Linked DNA regions of Homo sapiens: all the other regions are linked to region 2. The links come from fine-mapping of genetic effects on gene expression. A gene starts in region 2. Each other region holds a variant in brackets. All regions are shown on one strand. Distances are between the middles of the regions.

Region 1 (5,494 bases), 40 kb before region 2:
CACTCCCAGCACCCACGGAGGGGCCACGTCTCCCCCAGGCCCACCAGCCCCTCTCTTCTGGGGAGGGTGATTCCCGCATGCCTTCTCCCTGCCCCCCCACCCACCAGCCCCTGAGCCCCTGTGGCGTGGCTGGGAGTGTGGGTGACCTGCACGGGTTCCAGGGGCGGGCTCATCTCTCTCCTGTGCTTTTTTCCGTGCAGTGCGGTTTGTGTGGAGTTGGGCTCCGGTGACTCACCCTGCAGGTTCTTTCTCTGGGGTGTGGCTGGTGTCTCCCCGCTGCAGCCTGGTGCTGGCTGGGTCCTGACCGCACCTGTCGTGGCAGGAAACACATTCGTCGTGCCTTGGCTGGTCCCTGTGTGACTGCGTCCCGCCACGTGGGCCACACCCTGGGCCTACCCACCAAGGCCCAGCCTTGGCCCCAGGGACATTCAGCCTGGAGGTGACTGGCTGTGACTCAGGACCCAGAGGAGTAGAGGGAGCCAGGCAGGGGTCCCTCCACCTCGGGGAAGAGCTGGATGGGCTCTTCGGGAGCTCAGAAAGGCTAAGCCTTGAGGGACGGTGACGCAGAGCCGCCTGCCTGCCCGGGCCTCTGCATACCTGGGATCGGGGTGAAGGACCTTTGCCTCCTAGAGGCCTGCCTGAGCCGGGGCTGGTGGTGGAAGGCTGCTGCGGCGGCCCCACGGTGCCCCACAGCAGGTCTGCACACTTGCAGCAGCCCGTCTGACTCACAGGGGCCTGGGCTCCATCTCTCAAGCCCCTCATTTGTGCTCCACCCACAGGAGGTGCTTCCCAAGGACCGTAGATGCCTCTCTAGAGCATGAGCTCAGGCAAGAGTGCCCGCTACAACCGCTTCTCCGGGGGGCCCAGCAATCTTCCCACCCCAGACGTCACCACAGGGGTAAGGGTGTGCCCCTCTGCAAGCCCAACATCCCCAGGACCCCCAGCATGCCCCAGGGATCTGGTGTTGCCTGCAGAGCTCCCAGCGCAGTCCCGTCCCGAGCTGGGGTCTCAGGGGAGCTCGGTGGGGGGGGGTGTGGTGTGTGTGTGTGTGTGTGTGCGCGCGCGCGCGCGCGCGCGCACGCGTGCGTGTGTGGTTGGGGCGTGTTAGTGCTGTGTGGCGCGGCCTGGTTGCATGGTTAAGCGTGTGAGTGCTGCGTGGCGCGGCCTGGTCGCATGGTTAAGCGTGTGAGTGCTGCGTGACCTGGCCTGGTCGCATGGTAAAGCGTGTTAGTGCTGCGTGGCGCGGCCTGGTTGCATGGTTAAGCGTGTTAGTGCTGCGTGGTGCGGCCTGGTCGCATGGTTAAGCGTGTGAGTGCTGCGTGGCCTGGCCTGGTCGCATGGTTAAGCGTGTTAGTGCTGCGTGGCCTGGCCTGGTCGCATGGTTAAGCGTGTGAGTGCTACGTGGCCTGGCCTGGTCGCATGGTTAAGCGTGTGAGTGCTGCGTGGCCTGGCCTGGTCGCATGGTTAAGCATGTTAGTGCTACGTGGCGCGGCCTGGTCGCATGGTTAAGCGTGTTAGTGCTGCGTGGCGCGGCCTGGTCGCATGGTTAAGCGTGTGAGTGCTGTGTGGCGCGGCCTGGTTGCATGGTTAAGCGTGTGAGTGCTGCGTGGCGCGGCCTGGTCGCATGGTTAAGCGTGTGAGTGCTGCGTGGCCTGGCCTGGTCGCATGGTTAAGCGTGTTAGTGCTGCGTGGCCTGGCCTGGTCGCATGGTTAAGCGTGTGAGTGCTGTGTGGCGCAGCCTGGTCGCATGGTTAAGCGTGTGAGTGCTGCGTGGCCTGGCCTGGTCGCATGGTTAAGCGTGTTAGTGCTGCGTGGCCTGGCCTGGTCGCATGGTTAAGCGTGTGAGTGCTGTGTGGCGCAGCCTGGTCGCATGGTTAAGCGTGTGAGTGCTGCGTGGCCTGGCCTGGTCGCATGGTTAAGCGTGTGAGTGCTGCATGGCCTGGCCTGGTCGCATGCTGAAGCGTGTGAGTGCTGCATGGCCTGGCCTGGTCGCATGGTTAAGCGTGTGAGTGCTGCGTGGCCTGGCCTGGTCGCATGCTGAAGCGTGTGAGTGCTGCGTGGCCTGGCCTGGTCGCATGGTTAAGCGTGTGAGTGCTGCATGGCCTGGCCTGGTCGCATGGTTAAGCGTGTTAGTGCTACGTGGCGCGGCCTGGTCGCATGGTTAAGCGTGTTAGTGCTGCGTGGCGCGGCCTGGTCGCATGGTTAAGTGTGTGAGTGCTGTGTGGCGCGGCCTGGTCGCATGGTTAAGCGTGTGAGTGCTGCGTGGCGCGGCCTGGTCGCATGGTTAAGCGTGTGAGTGCTGCGTGGCCTGGCCTGGTCGCATGGTTAAGCGTGTTAGTGCTGCGTGGCCTGGCCTGGTCGCATGGTTAAGCGTGTGAGTGCTGTGTGGCGCAGCCTGGTCGCATGGTTAAACGTGTGAGTGCTGCGTGGCCTGGCCTGGTCGCATGGTTTAGCGTGTTAGTGCTGCGTGGCCTGGCCTGGTCGCATGGTTAAGCGTGTGAGTGCTGTGTGGCGCAGCCTGGTCGCATGGTTAAGCGTGTGAGTGCTGCGTGGCCTGGCCTGGTCGCATGGTTAAGCGTGTTAGCGCTGCGTGGCGCGGCCTGGTCGCATGATTAAGCGTGTGAGTGCTGCGTGGCGTGGCCTGGTCGCATGGTTAAGTGTGTGAGTGCTGCGTGGCCTGGCCTGGTCGCGTGTTAGGCATGTGAGTGGGCTCCACATGTGCACGTCCTCCTTGTGTCCCGGAATGAGGCCAGGTCTCCTCCGTCCTCCCTCTAGACCAGAATGGAAACGACCTTCGGACCCGCCTTTTCAGCCGTCACCACCATCACAAAAGGTGAGCCCTTAAGCCAAGGCCAGCCCAGGCTGGGAATAACCGGGGCACCCCCATGCCCACCCTGCTAAGGACTGAGGGACACTTCCCGGTGAGCTGGTGTTGGGTGCCAGTGCTGGGCGCGGGCAGCCTCACACC[G/C]CAGCCTGTGTCCTCACAGCCTCTCAGCCCTGGGCCTCCCCACTGGACAGGAGTCGGGTGTCCTGCTCCTTGTGCCTCGGTGACTGTGCTGTGCCCTCTCTCCCTGCCCTCTTCATCCCCTCTAGGGAGGCTTGCCCTGACATCTCCAGCACCACCACACAGCCCTGTCCCTTGTCACAGTGATCCCCAGCTTGTCCCCAGTCTCAGGCTCCTGGCCAGCCTCCGAAAGGTCCCGTGTGCCCGGAGGTCTTCTCTTGAGTTTGGCCCTAGGGCTTCAGTAACAGTGCTGCAGTTGTGACATGTTAATAGGAAGGGAGGGAGAGTGGAAGAGATCCATAAGTCTGGTTTGTTTTTTTGAGACGGGTGTCACTCTGTCACCCAAGCTGGAATGCAGTGGCGCAATCTTGGCTCACTGCAACCTGTGCCTCCTGGGATCAGTCCTGCCACCTCAGCCTCCCAGGTAGCTGGGACCACAGGCACCACCACACCTGGCTAATTTTTTTTATGTTTGGTAGAGATGAGGTCTCACCATGTTGCCCAGGATGGTCTCAAATTCCTGGGCTCACGTGATCCTCCTGCCTTGGCCTCCCAAAGTGCTGGAATTACAGGCATGAGCCAGCAAGCCAAGCCCAATAAATCTTCACCTGCACAAGACCACTGGGCGGGATACACGACAGAAACCTGAAGCTTCCCTGCTGCTTCTCAGTCCTATCCCCTAAAAACCAGAGTGCTGCGCTTTGAACGCAAGCGCCGTGCTCAGGGAGACCATGCGGAAGTGGCAGTGCCTTCTTCCCGAGGTGCAGGGCCAGGGACCCTCATTCCGGGGTGGGGTTCTGGGGTGACTTTGTTCTCTCTCCTTTCTGGCACTCTGCCCTTTGTAGAAGCACACTGGCTGCTAATTAGCTTTTTAATTGCTCTGATAAACCTGGCCATGGGGTCATAGGGCCGCCAAGGACACCTGCTTACAGTAGCGCCTCTTTGCTGCTGGTGATCCCCTCAGGGGCTCTCCAGGGGCCCTCTTTTTTTTTCTAATCCTACCCCCCAAAAAACGGTGCCTTTTCATCTACCCTTAGAAGCCCCATGGCCCCTGTCACACGGCGGAAGGTACCCATGATGGGGCAGGGCACGGCTGCTATGCCTGGCCCCTCGGCGGCAGGGATGGGCAGAGCCAGGCAGCAGGGCGCCCACAGGTACCTCACCTGGCCCCTCATGACAGATGGGGAAACCGAGGCCCAGTCACACGGCAGCCTCTCGAGGCCTCAATCTCGAGCCCAGGGCTCATCGTGACATCTGAGCTGGGCTGGTCCTGAGTCCGGGAGGTGTCTCTCTCTGCCTCCCACGTGGACTGACCGGCCGGTAGCCCTGCCCTCTGGCCCTGGCCAAGCTGGGGTGACGTGTGGGCAGGAGGAGGGAGGGCACTTCAGCTCCTGCCCCAGAGGAGGCCACCAAAGCTGGGGCCACTTCCTGGTCCTGGCTGTGCCAGGGACACCAGGATGCGGTCCTGGCCCTTCTGTATCCCAGCCCACACCTCAACCTCAGCTTCCCCCTCTGTGAGTGGAGGCTGTCAGGGAACTCACCTGGCAGAGGTGCCTCAAGAGGCAAATAAAATGGCACCCCCAGCTGCTGCCAGGCGGCCTTCAGAGTGATGGCTGCGTGCTGGCCATGAGCCTCAGCTGGCTCAATTGGGGTGCTGGGGAGCTTGTAGAGGCCCTGAAAGAAGACCCTGCCTGGGGTAGGCAGGGCTGGGGCAGGGGCTACCGGGCTCAGCGCTGGGACTGTCCAGATGTAGACCGAGCCCAGCGTCCATGCTCCTGGCACTGGTTTGACCTTGAGAGGGAACCCAAGCTTCCCCCGTGCCATCCCTGCATGCTTTCCTGCCTGCCTGGCCCTGGGGAGGGCTGTGAGCTACAGGGGACCCACAGGGTCGGGTATCCAGCATGGGCCCCACCTCCCCCACATCTGCTGAGGGAGCCCCCACTGAGACGCCAGCCCTCTTGCCTTGCAGCTGACGGGACCAGCACCTACAAGCAGCACTGCAGGACACCCTCCTCCTCCAGCACCCTTGCCTACTCCCCGCGGGACGAGGAGGACAGCATGGTAGGTCCCTACCCCCAGGAGCCCGTGTGAGCCTCAGCCTCCCCCCATCCTCCCTCCTGGGGGAACCAGGTCCCAGGAGGAGTTGACAGTGAGCTGGTGAGGCACAGGAGAAGAAGAGCACCTGTGGATACCCTGAGGCCTCGGCAGACATGGCAAGTCTGTGAGAAAGGAGGCTCCTGTGGCTGGACTGTGGGTGGCAGGGGGCAGCCAGTGAGGGCAGCTGGGTCAGAGGGCCTGGCACCTGCAGGCCAGGATGAGGCATATTTGGCTCCATCTTAAGGGAGGTGGAAACCACAGAAAGTTCAGTCAGGAGGATAGCACAATAAAATACATGCTTTGAAAGCTTCCTTTGCTGCTGGGTAGGGAATGAGCGGGGTTGCTGGGTCCAGGCAGGGTTTGAGGAGGGGTCCTGATGAGGCGGGGGGAAAG
Region 2 (5,494 bases):
AGAGATGGGGTATCACTATATTGTTCAGGATGGTCTTGAACTTCTGGGCTCGAGTGATCCTCCTGCCTCAGCCTTCGAAAGTGCTGGGATTACAGGCATGAATCACTGTGCTGGGCTCAGACTGAGGTTTTTAAAAGGCCACTCTGGCCGGGCGCGATGGCTCACGCCTGTAAACCTAGCACTTTGAGAAGCTGAGGTGGGTGGGTCACTTGAGGTTAGGAATTCAAGACCAGCCTGACCAACATGGAGAAACCCTGTCTCTACTAAAAATACAAAATTAGCTGGGATGGTGGTGCATGCCTGTAATCCCAGCTACTCAGGAGACTGAGGAACCCAGGAGGTGGAGGTTGCAGCGAGTCGAGATCGCGCCATTGCACTCCAGCCTGGGCAACAAGAGTGAAAATCCGTCTCAAAAATAAATAAATAAATAAATAAATAAATAAATAAATAAATAAAAGGCCATTCTGCACTGTGGTGGACAGTTTGGAAGGGGGCCAGAGTGGCTGGGGCAAGGAAGGAGGCTTTTATGGGGGATGGGGGTGGTGAGCTAGAACCAGGGCAGTGGAAAGGACAGGAAGGTATATCACAGGTAAAATCGGTGGCTGAAGGGAAGGGAAGGGTGAGGGAGGGGAGGTGTCGGATCTTGCCCAGCTGTAATACAAGGTGGGCACTGCCCACAGAAGGGGAGCTACTCAGGGATGGGTTGTCTTGGCCCTGGAATATGGTGGACCCTGCGGGGCATTCAAGGGACAGTGTCTTAACAGGGAGCTGAGGCCATCAGAGCTGGAGACAGGGTGGAAGGGGCCCAGGACAGGGACAGCATTGGAAGCTCCAGAGCTAGCAGTCATCAGCCCCCTGGTATCTCGTGGGGTGCACAGAGTGAATGCTGAAGGGCCTGAGTCCTTGCGGGCAGGCAGGGAAAGAGACTAAATGTCGGGGACAGGAGCTAGGAGAAGGCAGCCTTTCAGGCATGGTGCCGTCAACCATGGCTCAGATGCGTCAAGAAGTGGGAGGGGGCCGGGCGCAGTGGCTCACGCCTGTAATCCCAGCACTTTGGGAGGCTGAGGGGGGCGGATCACGAGGTCACGAGATCAAGACCATCCACCATCCTGGCCAACATGGTGAAAAGTCTGTCTCTACTAAAAATAGAAAAATTAACTGGGTGTGGTGGCATGCACCTGTAATCCCAGCTACCCGGGAGGCTGAGGCAGGAGAATAGCTTGAACCCGGGAGGTGGAGATTGTGGAGAGCCGAGATCGCACCACTGCACTCCAGCCTGGCAACAAAGCGAGACTCCGTCTCAATAAAAAAAAAAAAAAAAAGAAAGAAGAAGTGGGAAGAGGCCGGGCGCAGTGGCTCACGCCTGTAATCCCAGCACTTTGGGAGGCTGAGGTAGGCGGATCACTTGAGGTCAGGAGTTTGAGACCAGCCTTGCGAACATGGTGAAATCCCGTCTCCACTAAAAATACAAAAATCAGCCAGGTGTGGTGGTGCGTGCCTGTAATCCCAGCTACTCGGGAGGCTGAGGCAGGAAAATCGCTTGAACCTGGGAGGCAGAGGTTTTGCAGTGAGTCGAGATTGCACCACTGCACTCCAGCCTGGGCGAGAAAGCGAGACTCTGTCTCGAGAGAAAAAAAAAAAAAAGGTGGGAAGAAGGAAAAGTATCCACTGGATTTAGCAAAGTGAGATTGTCAGTGACCTTGAGGAATTTCCACTGGAGAGCTAGAGAGCTGGGGGTAAAAGGCAGATGACTGGGGTTGCGGAATGAGTGGGAGGTGAGGACGTGGAACTAGAAAAATGGTGAGGACCGCTCTTTGAAGAAGATAATTTGGGATTGTTTTATGGTGTTTTTTTAAAGGCTAACCGGCAGGAAGGAGAGGAGGTGAAGGTATAGGAAGGAAGGCTCCATGGGAACTATGGCCTGGTCAAGGGACAAGATGCACCCCCTCTGCGGCCAGAGGAAGGGGTGCAGCCAGGTCTGTAAGAGCAGCAGGAAAAAACCATGCGACAGCCTGTCTCAAGGGTGAGGGCACCGGCGTGGAGCTCACAGAGCTGGAATGAGGGCCTGTGGTTTTGAGGGGGACCCTGGGCTCAGTGGGATGTCCTGAGGGTCAGGCTGGGGCTGGGGTGCCAGATCTAGCAAGTAAAACTACAGGATACCCAATAAAATTTTTTTAGCATAAGTATTTCCCATGCAATGTCCTGGATATACTTACACTAAAAAAAAAATTATTCGTTACTTGTCTGAATTCAAGTCCTGTAATTTTCAGCCAATCCTAGCCCAGCGTGGCGCAGTAGTGGGTCAGGGAGGGCACCGGAACAGCGCGACCCGACAGCCCGGGAAACGGACAGCCGTGTCAGAAGGGCAGGTGCCAGTGGGCAGGAGGCCGGAGAGAAAGCCGCAGCTTCCTTCCACCTCGCGCCGGGCCCGCGGCCGCGCACGGGGACCGCTCCGAGTTCCTCCCGGCGGGAACCCCCCGCCCCAGAACTTTGGTCTCGTCCCACCCACCCCCGCCCGCGCCATGGTCTCGCCCTAGGGAGCCATCGATAACTCTACGCTCGGCCTCGATCGACTCGCTCCGGCTCCCCTCGCCGTCCTGGACACGGCGGAGTGCGGAGCCGCCCGTAAGGTACGGAGGCCGCGAGCCAGGGGCCGGGAACCGGCTGCTGGGTGGCTGGGAGAGCACGGCCAGGGGAAGCCGGCCAGCAGGACGGAGCAAGGGCGGTCACCGGAGGAAAGGGGAGCTCGGGGGTCCAGCCAGACTGCGCCCTTTCCCATCAGGGCCTGCCGCTGGCCTGCTACGCATGCGCAGCCGCAGCGCTCGGCTTTCCCCGGCCCATCCGCCGCCTTGCGCACGCGCAGCCCGCCCCTGCGGCAGAGTGGCGCCCGCGCGTGACTCCCCCCTGCCGGCTGCGGAGGTGGGGGGGGGACGGCGCCCCCGCCGTGTGCGTGGGGCGGGGATGGAGCACGCGCCCTGGAGCCCCGGAGCCAGGTATCACGCGTGTGACGCGTGTCCCTGAACCTACCTGCGCTTCTTGTCCCAACTCTAAAATGGGAATGATAAGCGCCATTCGGCAGCGCCTTGTGGGTCTATAATCTACTTAGCACAGAGAGTGTCTTCTAAGTACTTCACATCCTTCTCTGCAGATGCTCTGACCTTTGACCCCTGCCGTTCAGCTCTAGGGCCCGTGCAGGCCACACCATGAACACCTCCCCAGGCACGGTGGGCAGTGACCCGGTCATCCTGGCCACTGCAGGCTACGACCACACCGTGCGCTTCTGGCAGGCCCACAGCGGCATCTGCACCCGGACGGTGCAGCACCAGGACTCCGTATCCTCCACCCGGGGCGGGCAGGGCGGCGCTGGGGGGATGCCTCGTGTGGGGACCACAGCCTGTGTGAAGGCCAGATGGTGGAGGCCTGGGGGGCCCTGGCCTCAGGGCTACCTTCCCGTCATCCTCCTTAACAGTCCCAGCAGGTGAATGCCTTGGAGGTCACACCGGACCGCAGCATGATTGCTGCTGCAGGTATCTGTGATCCTTGATCTCTAAACTCCTGAGCTCTGGTGGGTCGACCTCAGCACAGCCAAGCTTCAGTTCAGCCTGTGTCCCTAGGTTACCAGCACATCCGCATGTATGATCTCAACTCCAATAACCCTAACCCCATCATCAGCTACGACGGCGTCAACAAGAACATCGCGTCTGTGGGCTTCCACGAAGACGGCCGCTGGATGTACACGGGCGGCGAGGACTGCACAGCCAGGATCTGGGACCTCAGGTGCGGTGGGGAGGGGGCGTGCTGCCCGGGGCTGGGGTGGGCTGCTCTGGGAGACCGTTTTAGGTTGGGTTCTCTTCAAGCAGAGGCTGAGACAGGGAGCTTCCTGTGGGCGACTTACTGAGAGAAGTGAGGACAGGAGGAGAGTGAATTGCATCAGAGCGCGAGTCCTGCCTTGAGCCCGGAGCCAGCTTGTTATTCCCCTTCCACCAGCCACTGGCTTAGGCTCCCTGCTGGAGCAGAGGGCCCTGCGTCCCAAGTATTTCCCAAGAGGCAGGTCCTTCAGCAGAGGGAGGGGAGGAATGGCCAGGCCGAGGCCATCTGGGTAGGGCACCAACAAGCCCAGATGGACAGCATGTGCCCCGGCCCGGCCCGCAGGTCCCGGAACCTGCAGTGCCAGCGGATCTTCCAGGTGAACGCACCCATTAACTGCGTGTGCCTGCACCCCAACCAGGTGAGGGGTGCTCATGGGGCCAGGCACCCTGGGACTTTGGAGGGCTGGGCTTGGGCCCTGCCTCACCACCCCTGCACCCCAGGCAGAGCTCATCGTGGGTGACCAGAGCGGGGCTATCCACATCTGGGACTTGAAAACAGACCACAACGAGCAGCTGATCCCTGAGCCCGAGGTCTCCATCACGTCCGCCCACATCGATCCCGACGCCAGCTACATGGCAGCTGTCAATAGCACCGTGAGTCCTGGTGGCAGGTGCTGGGTGCGGGCAGCTTGGCACTCAGCCCTCAGCCTCTGCAGGTGGGCTTATTCCTGGATGTCCCTTAGCGGCCCCCTCCTGCTTTCCCCATCCCGGGCACTAACACCCACCTTGCCAGCAAAGCCAGAAGCCTTAGTGTCGCTCCCGATGGCTTAGTCCTGTCTGCAGGTCGGTCACTCCGCTTTCTGGAGTCTCTCCCAAGTCGATCCACTTCCCTCTTTTCACTCTGTTGCCTCCTGGTCCCAGTCACCCTTGTTTCTGGTGACGGCTGACACACTCTCTGAGGCTTCCTTTCCCCCTCCCTGACCTCCCCTGGCCCCTGACACGTTCTCTCTTGGATGCTTCTAGTGGTGCCTGGTCAGTATCAGCCAGGTGGCGTCATTCCCCTGAGGAGACCCGGGGCTGCTGGCCTCGCCCGTAGGCTGCTGTGGCGTGGCCCCTGCTCTTCTCTCCAGCCTCATTTTTTTTCATTAACTTCATTTAATCCCAGTGCATCACTTGTACCTCTTGCCCCCGGATTTCCCTTCTGCTGGCCTTTGTCATGCTGTCTCTCTAGCTGGTGCCCTTCTCCTGTCTACTTCCGTTGGCCATCGGCATCCTCCAGGAAGGAGAATTTGAGTCCTTGGCCAGGCGTGGCCTCCTGTTCTTGGCTTGCCAGGTGTGGCCCTTGCTTGGGGCCAGGCTTCCCAGGTGCCTTCTGCAGGCAGGACCAGAGGGGCCTGCCTGCCCCTCACCCGGGGTCCCCATGCACAGTTGGCCCCCAGTGTTGGCCCCCAGGGCATCCTTCCCTGTGTCTCAGACCTGAGGCCTTGGGCCCTCCGTGACGGTCCTCCTGACCTCTAGGGAAACTGCTATGTCTGGAATCTGACGGGGGGCATTGGTGACGAGGTGACCCAGCTCATCCCCAAGACTAAGATCCCTGCCCACACGCGCTACGCCCTGCAGTGTCGCTTCAGCCCCGACTCCACGTGCGTGCAGGGCCTGCTGGCCCGGGAGGGGACCTGCCTGGG
Region 3 (5,494 bases), 930 kb before region 2:
GGCGACGTCAGTGAGATTCCTGTCCCTCATCAGGGTGGCCCCTTTGTCCCTGTGGCAGGGCCTGAGAACAGCTATCGTGTAGCAGGTGACATGGGTGATGGGCCTGGGGACGGCCATCGTGTAGCAGGTGACGTGGGTGAGGGTGCTGGGGATGGCCGTCGTGTAGCAGGTGGCGTGGTTGAAGGCCTGGGGATGGCCATCGTGTAGCAGGTGATGTGGGTGAAGGGCCTGGGGATGGCCGTCGGGTGGCAGGTGACGTGGGTAAGGGTGCTGGGGACAGCCATTGGGTAGCAGGTGATGTGGGTAAAGGGCCTGGGGACGGCCATCATGTAGCAGGTGATGTGGGTGAGGGTGCTGGGGACAGCCATCAGGTAGCAGGTGACATGGGTGAAGGGCCTGGGGACGGCCGTCGGGTAGCAGGTGACGTGGGTGAGGGTGCTGGGGACAGCCATCAGGTAGCAGGTGACATGGGTGAAGGGCCTGGGGATGGCCGTCGGGTAGCAGGTGACGTGGGTGAAGGGCCTGCAGACCCACTCCTGGCCCTGGCCCATGTCTCTGGGCCTCTGCATGGTTGGCACCCTGCCAGCTGGTCTCTGGGCGTCTGCATGGTTGGCACCCTGCCAGCTGGTCTCTGGGCGTCTGCATGGTTGGCACCCTGCCAGCTGGTCTCTGGGCCTCTGCATGGTTGGCACCCTGCCAGCTGGTCCTGGGCCTCTGCATGGTTGGCACCCTGCCAGCTGGTCTCTGGGCCTCTGCATGGTTGGCACACTGCCAGCTGCCGCAGCACCCACCCCAGCACCTGCCCAGCTCTGCCTCCAACTGCAGTGCTGCAAAAGGGACCTGCGCGTAGTGGGCTCTGTGCCGTTGTCCAGGCTGCATCCTGCTTTAGGCACGGGGCCCTCACCACAGTTCTGATCTGTCCCTGATCTCCCCCCGCACCCCACTGTCTGAATACAGAGGCCCCCTCCTCTCTACTGGGGAGCCCAGACATCTAGCCCTTGCCCTGTGTGGTTCTCTCCGGGTGAGGTGGGAGGGACCTGCCGGGAGAGACAACATCCCTGCTGCTTCACTCACGGTGTGAAGCCGGAAGGGACCAGACTCAGACCCCCTCCCGGGCCAGCCTCTCCGTGAAGCCCCTTTCTCCAGCAGGAGAGTGTAGCTGCCCCTCTGGGTGCTCAGGGGCCTTCTCAGCCTCACCTGACCCTCACCTTGGGGGTGGGGGGTGCAAGAGAAAGGAGAATGAAGACTTCCCCATCTCAGGTTGAGGATGCCTGGTGCCCCGTCACAGCCCAGCAGCCTCCCTGACCCAGCCCTAGTCCCAGACCTTCTGCGAGGCGGGCACAGGGCGGCCATATGGGAAGTCTCAGTGCTAAATGCTCCAATGCCCCAGGGCAAACAGTGGCCCAGCAACTAGGGATGTAAACCGTGCTTGGGTTTCCTCAGAAGCCTCCTGTGCCACACCCTGGAGATGCCCTGGGCACTGGGCATGGCTGGGCAGGGCTGCAGGTGGGCACTGGGCAGGGCTGGGCAGAGCTGGGCAGGTTAGATGGGTGGGTGGGTGGACGGACAGATGGACAGATGGACGAGTGGATAGATTCGTGGGTGGGTGGATGGATGGGTAGATCAATAGATAGGTGGATGGATGGATGGATGGTTGGATGGATGGATGGATGGATGGATTGATTAATTAGTGGATAGGTGGGTGGATGGATGGATGGATGAATTGATGGCTGGATGAGTGGATGGATTTAGTACGGGTAGATGGGTAGACAGATGGTAGATGGTTGAAATTTGGTAATGAGGCTGACCTGTTCTTTTAGTGGAGGGCTGGGCTGGGAGCTGGGCCCCCAAGAGTAGAGTCATCACTGAGAATATTTCCCCTGATCTTACCACCCCATTCATCATTTCCCTCCACCACCAAAGAATGTCTGGTCTGGAGCAGCCATTTCTACAGTGCAACTGTCCAGAGCAGATGCACCCACGTCAGGAAGCCCCCGGTCACTGCCCGCCAGCCGCACCCACACTCAGGAACACACTGGCCACTTTCTGGTTTGCCTTGCTAACAGTTTAACGAGACGATACTGCAAACTGGCTCCAGGACTTCCATCCCTAACCTCACCCCCATTCAAAGCACCTTCCATGCCTCCTCCTCCCAGTGTGAGGGAGGAAGGTGATAGGTCTGAAAAGGTGGAGGGGAGTGAGGACCATGTGCGATGGAGGAGCAGAGAAGGTGGGTGCTGGAAGGCGCAGGGAGCGGAGGGGCCAGGACGAGGAAGGAACTGGATTCTTGGGGAGCTGGGAGGAGCCTGGGGCTTAGAGGTGCATTTGCTGCAGGATCCAGGGCACATAGGTCTGGACTCACGTGTAGACGCCAATGCTGGGCCGATCACTGTAAAATCCCCAGCTCACTACTCCCGCCTGGAGCCAGGTACCCTTCTTCTTGCAGACCAGGGGGCTGCCTGAGTCACCCTGTGGAGCAGAGAAGGCCCAGCTTGACCAGAGACCCAGGACCCTGCACATCCAAGTCCAGCATCGGAGCCGCAGACAGGAAAAGAGATGGCAGGAGAGAGGCGCCAGGTCTCACCTTCCAGGTGCGGCGGCCCGTGCGGCCGGCACAGATCATGTCATCCTGGATGAACTTTCTGTCTCCAGCACCAGGAAAAGCATCGTAGGTCTGCCGCTCACAGTCTGCATTGCTCAGTGTGAGGACCTTCACCTGCTGCGGGCGGTAAGGAGGCGGCAGCATATCTGCAGAGACAAGCCACGGGTGGCGGGAGCAGCTCAGGAGGGGCCCCCAACCAGCACCATGGCAGGACCCCTCCCTGCCCCCAGCCTCAGCTCAGGACCTGGGATGCTCAGCCTACACAGCCTAAGGTGGAGTCAAAGGGGCTCCACCTCTAAAGCTGCAGGAACCCAGAAGGGAAATGCCAGGGTAGGGTACAGTGGCATAATCATAGCTCCCTGCAGCCTCCGCCTCCCAGGCTCCAGCGATGCTCAAGCAATCCTCCAGCCTCAGCCTTCCAAGTAGCTGGGACCACAGGCCTACACCACCATGCCCAGCTAATTTTAATTTTTTTAAGATGGAGTCTCACCC[T/G]GTCGCCCAGACTGGAGTACAATGGCACAATCTCTGCTTAGTGCAACCTCTGCCTCCTGGGCTCAAGCAGTTCTCCTGCCTCAGCCTCCTGAGTAGCTGAGATTACAAGCACCCACCACCACGCCCAGCTAATTTTTGTGTTTTTAGTAGAGTCAGGGTTTCACCATGTTGGCCAGGCTGGTCTTGAACTCCTGATCTCAAATGATCCACTGGCCTCAGCCTCCCAAAGTGCTGGGATTACAGGTGCGAGCCACCATGCCTGGCCAATATATATATTTTTTAATTTTTTGTGGAGATGGGGTCTCCCTGTGTTGGCCAGGCTGGTCTTGAACTCCTAGGCTCAAGTGATCCTCCTACCTTGGCCTCCCAAAGTGCTGAGATTACAGGTGTGAGTCACCGCACACACTCCCCCACCACCCTACCACCCCCATCCACCAATACCTTTTAAATTGGGAGCAAAGGGAGATGGGACCCTACACACACACTCTAGAAAAGAGAGGCGGGACCTATGCACACACTCTAGAAAAGGGAGGCAGGACCTACGCACACACTCTAGAAAAGGGAGGCGGGACCTACACACACACTCTAGAAAAGGAAGACAGGACCCTACACACACACACACTCTAGAAAAGGGAGGCAGGACCTATGCACACACTCTAGAAAAGGGAGGCAGGACCTACGCACACACTGTAGAAAAGGGAGACGGGACCCCCACACACTCTAGAAAAGGGAGGCGGGATGTACACACACACTCTAGAAAAGGGAGACGGGACCACACACACACACACACACACACGCTCTAGAAAAGGGAGACGGGACCACACACACACACACACGCTCTAGAAAAGGGAGACGGGACCACACACACACACACACACTCTAGAAAAGGGAGGCAGGACCTACGCACACACTCTAGAAAAGGGAGGCAGGACCTACGCACACACTCTAGAAAAGGGAGGCGGGATGTACACACACACTCTAGAAAAGGGAGACGGGACCACACACACACACACACACACACTCTAGAAAAGGGAGATGGGACCACACACACACACTCTCTTTCTCCCTAGAAAAGGGAGGCAGGACCTACGCACACACTCTAGAAAAGGGAGGCGGGATCTACGCGCTCTAGAACAGCACCAGGTATTGCCTTTCAAAGAACAGAGGCCCGAAGCAGGAAAGGAAGAAAGCTTCAGGGTCTCTGCAGCCTTCAGTGGAGGGATGGACAGATGGATAAATTCGTGCCCTCTTTGAACCCATTTTCTTTTCCACAAAATGAAGAAAATGTCTTGCAATATGTCTATGGGTAAGATACGTGTTCCACACACACACGCACAGCACAGTCAGTGGCTCCTGCCACCCACCCCAAAGGCTCATTTTCTTTGCTCCCTGTTTTATGAGCTTGAATTCCCCAGGGCAGCTCACCTGAACCCTGCACCCCAACCCTAGCAAGAGAAACCCCAGAATGTGCAAACCAAGGGCTTGTCTTTCATGAGCCTTCCCAGGACCCCCCCGCACGCCCGCCCCACGTCCCTCTGGTTCTCACCCAACAGGCCGACCATGCCCCAGCCTGTGTTCCAGCAGTTGTCACTGTCAGTGAACTCCAGGGACTATGACGGCAGGGCGACTGCCGCGAGAGTGTTTGTTGTTCTCACACTGGTGGCCAGCTTCAGCAGGGCGATGTCTGCCCCCAGGAAGAAGACAGAGTAGTTGGGTGGACGACGATCTGGCTGACATTCAGCAGCCCCCGGCCCCCGTACAGATACACATCCCTGGTGTGAATCCGGTAGGTGGACGGGTCGGTGTCCTTCCTGGGGGAGGACAGACCCAGGCTACTCAAGGGACCTGGTATGGGGCGGCCCCACTCCCACCTCCCCTTGGTGGGGTCCCCGGCCCAGGACTCACCGGAAAATGCAGTGAGCGGCGGTCAGCACCCACTGGGGGTGGATGAGGGAGCCCCCGCAGATGGGCACCCAGGAGGCCCAGTGGTAGCTATAGATCCTCAGGCTGACCTGCCACGACCACTTCCCCTGGGGGTGTTGTGGCCCCCCACAATGCCCACCAGGTCATTCTCGGGGACGGGAGCTGGGAACAACAGAAGGAGGTCAGGGAGCCCGGCCTCTGCCACCCGAGCCTCACCCCACGCCTGCCCTCGGGCAGGAGCCGGGCCGTGCACGTGTCCCCTGGATCCTGGGGACGGGGTGGCAGAGCCCCTGGGAAGGGAGGGCTGTGTGGGGTCGGGACTCACCTGGACTCCCAGTGCTACAGCTCCCCAGGGAGGAGACAGCCAGGAACAGCAGCAGCAGCAGCTGCGGGGAGAGGGCGTGGAGTGCGGGCTGGGGGCTCAGACCCGGGGTCAGGGGTGGAGGGCGTGGGGTGCGGGCTGGGGGCTCAGACCCG

What was found. PIP is the estimated chance that this variant, and not a neighbour inherited with it, causes the effect.
Region 1: its variant is fine-mapped to the expression of MLST8 in whole blood (INTERVAL, PIP 0.99).
Region 3: its variant is fine-mapped to the expression of MLST8 in amygdala (GTEx, PIP 0.94).

Annotation. Positions count from the first base shown.
Region 1 is chr16:2,163,104-2,168,597 of GRCh38, forward strand. TRAF7 (TNF receptor associated factor 7) reads left to right here. Exons shown (of 21, transcript NM_032271.3): 2 at 780-898; 3 at 2,776-2,833; 4 at 4,974-5,065. The coding sequence starts at 818. Among named protein-coding and RNA genes, the nearest start is that of TRAF7, 10 kb to the left of the region's middle. RefSeq lists enhancers at 1-368, 369-868, 1,278-2,051, 2,052-2,824. The variant G/C (reference allele first, on the strand shown) is at 2,969.
Region 2 is chr16:2,202,883-2,208,376 of GRCh38, forward strand. MLST8 (MTOR associated protein MLST8) reads left to right here and starts at 2,572. Exons shown (of 9, transcript NM_022372.6): 1 at 2,572-2,630; 2 at 3,149-3,332; 3 at 3,476-3,527; 4 at 3,615-3,777; 5 at 4,153-4,228; 6 at 4,311-4,463; 7 at 5,328-5,452. The coding sequence starts at 3,204. RefSeq lists enhancers at 1,547-2,387, 3,227-4,066, 4,067-4,905 and a silencer at 2,480-3,129.
Region 3 is chr16:1,271,324-1,276,817 of GRCh38, forward strand. It overlaps the pseudogene TPSP1. Among named protein-coding and RNA genes, the nearest start is that of TPSD1, 18 kb to the left of the region's middle. The variant T/G (reference allele first, on the strand shown) is at 3,095.